Regions from separate parts of the Homo sapiens genome. Here region 2 is linked to region 1. The links come from fine-mapping of genetic effects on gene expression. A gene starts in region 1. The other region holds a variant in brackets. All regions are shown on one strand. Distances are from middle to middle.

Region 1 (2,914 bases):
AAAGCACAAGGGTAGGTCACCACCGGCATTCGAAAATATTCAGGCAGCAAGTACCGAAGGCTGCTGCAACTCACTAACTCCTTCCTTCCATAGTCCACATGAAGCACCTGGGCACAGCGCTGGGGCCGAAAAGTCTCAAGCAACAGTGCTCTGTACCAATGTCCATCCAGGCCACAGGATGCACACGGAGAGCCCGGCTTATCTGGGCTCTCCTCCCTCTCCTCCCAGGTGGCACTGGTAGAGTTCTCATCCCCTGTCCCCGTGGAACCCCGGTATACCTGGGCCATGCTCTCGGAGAGGCGGTGGATCTCCTGCGAGACGCTGCGGAGCTGGCAGTGAATGCGGTGGGGATGGCACACTTGGGTTATGACCACGGCCTCCGTCACGCCCAGCTGCAGCTGGGGATAGAAGTAATCCAGACCAGGCTGCTTTTGCTTGAGCGGGACTCGCGAGAGAACCGGGACCCCGGAGCCCACGCTAGCAGTGGCCGCTGTGAGATAGCGCTCCAGCAGCGAACGGAAGAGGCTGTCGGGCACCCGCCGAGCCAGGCCCAGCTCCCGCATCTGTTGGAACACATCAGGCACCTCCAGGAGGACCAGGCGATGGAGCAGCAGCACGTCCAGGACGCACCCGTGCACCTCCTTGCCCTGAAGGTTGCTAAGGAAGTCCACGGCGTCGGCGGGCCAGTGCTGCGGCGGCTCGCCTGAGCCCGCGCCGCAGCCTGCCGGCACCAGGCCCGCTAGCACGCAGCCCAGCACTTCCGAGGGCAAATTGAAGAACTCTCTGCGCCCAGGCGCCAGCGAGCCTGCTCCGGCCGTGATGGTGCGGCCCTCGTCCAGCAGGAAGACACGGCTCTCCTGTGCCTGCCGGCTGACCACGCGGCAGCGGTGCCACAAAAGCCCGACCTGCACCAGGCACAGCTCGCCGGGCGAGGCCGAGGCGCTGCCCAGCGCCCACTGGCCGCGCGTGGCCGCCGCTTCCTGGATTTCCCGGCTCAGCCGCAGGTACTCGCCCCGCCGCTCGCCCACCAGCCCCCACAGCTGCACCGGGATCACATCGGGATGCACGTCCACGAAGGACACCCGCAGGGCCAGCGAGGCCCCCGGCGCCGGCATTCCGGGCGTCGAGCACATCTTGACGGCGCGGCGCGGCCCCCACTTCCGGAAATTAAGGGCCGCGCCTCAGGGCCTCGAAATCCTCCGCGCCGCCTGAAGGCGAGTCCCAGCCAAACTAGGTTCAAAGGACCCAGTGGAGGGGAAGAATGCCGGCGAGGCCTTTTCTCGGCAACTCCCCCGTCGAGGGTCCTCCGGGACTCCCGCCACGGACTGGTAAGACCCGGTAGCCCCTCCAACCGCCCGAGGTCGCGCTTCCGGGCACGCATTTACCTCACTCGGCGCCGCCACTTCCGGCCGCGGAGAGTGGGCGGGGCCAGCCGAGGCCTGGGGTTGGCCTAACGCCTAAGGGCCCAAGGAGCTTGTTGGGACGTTCAGGAGACCCCGAGGTGGGAGGTTTTGGACACAACCTGCATCTCCTCAGAGCGCCTTCGACTCTGGAGGCCGCCGTGTGACGGCCTGACACAGGGCTGCGGTGAGGACCGACCAGAGAGGGATTTCCTTTTCGTCCTCCCAACTACCAGGGATTGAGCACTGGGGGCCAGGCAAGGTACTAGCCAGTGGCGTTCCCGACGGGAACGAGAAACGCAGGAGCCAATGGCACGTTCCTAGGCGTTAAGGCCGGAACTCTAGGAGGGCCCTGGGTGCTGCTGCGGGGCACGGGTGCTCCTGCTGGCTCAGTGTGTCCGTGGACAGCCAGGTGCTCAGCCTCTATTCTTTAACCCTGTTCCATCATCTGAATTGATAAGAGTTGTTATGAGGTTAAAATAACGTGTGAAAGTATATAGCAACTGGTACATATTTCCCTTCCCACACTTAGCTGATACGGGTTCCTTTGCTCCTTTGCTGTCTAACTCTGGCATCCCAATTTTGAAGGCATTTTCATTTACTCACAGAGCTAGCACAGAACTGGATTCATAAAAGGAGGCCAAGAGGAATGGAATCAACATTCCTTCAAGCCCCTGCTGTATATACTAAAATCTTAACAGGATAACCCTTTGAGGCCTCTGTTAAATGTCCAAACCTCCATTTGGAATGGAAAAGTGCAGGCAAACTAGAAGTTTCCAGGATATGTCTACATTAGATTTTTGTTCATTTGCAAAGTTAGACACATCCGTGGAAGCTTCTTATAGTCTGCCTGTACTTTTCCTTTCATTCCACGTTTCGAAATGTCATTACATACAAATACAACAAGGCAGTGCTTCAAATGACCCTGGCCTAACTGTAAATCTCAGTGTCTTCAGTCTGTCCAGATTAGAGGCAACCATGTGCTTCCACATCACCCTATGCTTACTTTTTCACGGCACTTTTCACATTGTGTGGCAACTGTCTGATCTCTATCATCCCACCAGCCGACAGGTTCCCTTTGGCAAGTACCGTTTGTTGGATTCTCGGAATCTAGCTTGGAGTGAAGGCAATGAATATTTGCTAAATGAATATGAATGAATGAATGAATGAATCCAATTTCTCTAAAAGCCAAAGCTTTTCTTTTCCTGAAGAACTCATCCTTGAAAACTCAATTTTCCCATTTTTTTTCTAATTGTTTCATATTCATTATGGAAGAAAAACATTTTATTTAAAAACATCTAGCAAGACCTAGCTCAAACGTCGTTTCCTCGTGACCCTACTATTCAACCTGGCAGAATTGGTTATTCCTTTTTTTTTTTTTTTTTACATACTTCTATATTATTATATTTTGTAGCTCTCTGTTTGCCACAGTAGGAACATCTTAAAAGCAGGAACACTTCTCATTTATTTTTATGTTCTCGATGCCTAGCCAGTGCTGGACTGTTAGCATCCAG
Region 2 (2,914 bases), 57 kb after region 1:
TATTCTCAAGTAAACATCTTTTCTTAAAAATAAAAAAAAAAGATAGTAGTATCTGCATCTTGGAGTTATAGTGAGGAGTGAAATGGGTTAAATACTTGCAATACACTTAAAACAGTACTTGCCCTTAGCAAGCAGTGAGTTGATATTAGCTCCCATTATTTCTATCACCTAGACATAAGTTATTTAAGATTAAAAGTAGATGAGTAACTTAATGAAAATGTTACAGTGTCTGAATTTTTTCCCATGATGGAGAGCCGTCACTGGCAAAGACAAATCTGGGGAAACCGCCCGATGAAGAAAATACTTTAGTGGGATTTGTTTGGTGACTTGAGAACAACATGTCTTGAGATGGGTAGCCTTGGATGGGGCCCTGCCCTGAGCTGTCACTGTTCAAGTCAAATGTCCGTTCTCTGTATGGTTTTAGAGTATTGTGGTATTTGTAATATTCTGGCTTGGCAGTTCTGTCTCCCATGGTGAATGGGCTGAGAATCTGTATGGTGGATGGGGGTGTAGTTTTCTCCTGAATGCACCAGAGATGTGTGTTTCTCTATTGCTTGCATTTTGCTAAGAGCAGAGGTTTATAAGACAGGGATTCCAGAGCAGTGTGGAGGGCAGAGATAATAACACACAATTTGCCAATTCAGTTTGGTAAAGTAGAGATCCAAAGTGCATTTTACCCTCTGAAAGGTTTTATTTTAAGCACTTTTTAGGTACTAACTCATTTAATTCTCACAACAATCCTACGAGGTAGGTACCATATTATGAACATTTTATGGATGAGGACACAGAGGCACAGAGAGATTAAAGTAGCTTGTTCAAGGTCATCCAGCTCTTAAATAGCTGAGCCAGGATTTGAACAAATGCAGTGAGGCGGTCAAGCTCCAGAATCCCTACTCCTAATTACTATACTACAGTAAGGACATAAATCCCTTCACATGCCTCAAACTGCAAAACCTGGGAATGGCAGAAATGATATCTTTCATATTAAAGAAAAAGGCATGATCTCTTGTTTATTAACATCGATATTTGTCACATAGCCATGGTTTGGCAATGTTTATTTCTTTTAAACAGACATTATTGCAAGCTACGCTGGATATTGTAGAGACGGAAACAAGTAAGGAAAACTCACCCAATTATGGGCTCTTACTGCTTTGGGCTTCTCTGTCTAATGCTGTTCCTGTAAGTATATTAGTAAAGTATGAGTTACGTTGCTCTCCACTGTCCTTTCATCTTTTTTTCCTTCATTTCTGTCTTCCATTCTTTTTTCCACTCATCACTCATTATGGAAAAGAAAAAAACTACAGTGGATTTGGTTGTGAGATAAAAACCAAAACTGAATGCCTAATGAAATCTGATTAGGTTACAAAGGAGACGAAACAGATCTCAAGCAAATTCTGTCCTCTGAAAGGCAGTGTGTAACAGGATGAGGGAAAAGCTTGCCCTTTGGGGCCAGTTGTAGACAACATCTGTTTATGGAACACTTTTTGTATGTCTACCAATGTGCTCAGTATTGGTATTGAAAAGATGAATAGGGATTGGCCACATGCTTTTATTGGAAAGAGTAAGTAAATGGATAGTT[T/G]CAGGTAACTTGGGCTTGGATCCAGACATCCCAATTTGTAGTTGTAGACTGTCATGGTGGTAATTTAAATTTTCTGTGCCTCCATTTCCTAATAAGAGATAATGTACTATTTTACCTAATAAGGGTAAAAAAAGGGATAATGTATGTGAACCTCCCACTGTGGTCTTAGAACTTGGGTGCTCAATAAATGGTAATTCTCATTTCTCTACAAAGTTGTTATGAGGATTTAATAAGATAAGCCTAGCTGGTATCAATGAATATTAGCTCTTTCTCTCCATTTGTACCCATTCTCCTTCTGTGTGCCATTCCTGTTTGCATTGCTTAGCATTATGGTCCTACAAGCTTCCGCATGAATGGTGCTGGTGAAATTGGAACTTTCAACACTTCTAAAGAGAGGCAAGACTTAAAAAACTGTTTTTTGTGGGTTTTTTTGTTGTTGTTGTTGTTTTGTTTTGTTTTGTTTTTTTGAGATGGTGTCTCATTCTATCACCCAGGCTGGAGTGCAATGGCGTGATCTCGGCTCACTGCAACCTCTGCTTCCCGGGTTCAAGCGATTCCCCTGCCTCAGCCTCCTGAGCAGCTGGGATTACATGCGTGAGCTACTGGGCCCGGCTAAAAAACTGTTTCTTTTAAAATCTGTCTTGCATTAGATTAGAGCCATGAGATTTGTCTGTCACGTCATGTTCAGTGCCAACAGTTTCCTGGGCCAGGAGGTTCTCACATTAGCCTAAGATGCTACTTATATTATCTGAAATTAAAGGGTAACTTTTTAAATATACTTGTTTTCTACTAAACAGGAGGATTTAACCTATCCATGATGATATGTGTGGGCATTTTTCTTCCTTTTTCTTCTAACAGATAGAAATTAGGAAGATGTTTTAAGTATTATTTATTTAGCCTTACTTTTATAAAGGCCTAGGTTGTTAAAGGCTTTCTCAGTCATGATATTCTAGTTTCCCTTAACTTGTTGAAAAATTTACTGCATAAAGAGAAGGGATAGAAATTCTGGCCTCTTTTCTCAAAGGTATGTTAGCCAGTGGAATATACATTTCATCTGATATGGTCAAGTAAAAGTAGTCTAAACCCTTCCCCTTCTTTATGTACCTATAATATTCTTCTCTGGTTTTTCCTTAAATAATATTCTTGGAAACTGATTAAGCTATAGCAAAATTGAGAAACAAACATCAAAACAACTCTCAAAGTAGCAACAAAACAGGCACTCCTGTCAAAGAATTATTTTTCAATATCTTGTTAGAAACATCCCCCGGAAGAAAGACACACAAAGCCCCATTGATCTGACACAGGGGAAGTCGGTTCTTTGGAATTTGTTCTTGG

What was found. PIP is the estimated chance that this variant, and not a neighbour inherited with it, causes the effect.
Region 2: its variant is fine-mapped to the expression of TDRD6 in tibial nerve (GTEx, PIP above 0.99). The same link has a PIP of 0.9 or more in atrial appendage, gastroesophageal junction, nucleus accumbens and sigmoid colon.

Annotation. Positions count from the first base shown.
Region 1 is chr6:46,686,348-46,689,261 of GRCh38, reverse strand. It overlaps TDRD6 (tudor domain containing 6), which reads right to left and starts at 1,377. Exons shown (of 4, transcript NM_001010870.3): 1 at 1-1,377. The coding sequence starts at 1,133. It overlaps TDRD6-AS1 (TDRD6 and SLC25A27 antisense RNA 1), which reads left to right and starts at 1,097. Exons shown (of 2, transcript NR_134643.1): 1 at 1,097-1,328.
Region 2 is chr6:46,629,228-46,632,141 of GRCh38, reverse strand. CYP39A1 (cytochrome P450 family 39 subfamily A member 1) reads left to right here. Exons shown (of 12, transcript NM_016593.5): 6 at 1,072-1,179. Among named protein-coding and RNA genes, the nearest start is that of CYP39A1, 22 kb to the left of the region's middle. The variant T/G (reference allele first, on the strand shown) is at 1,580.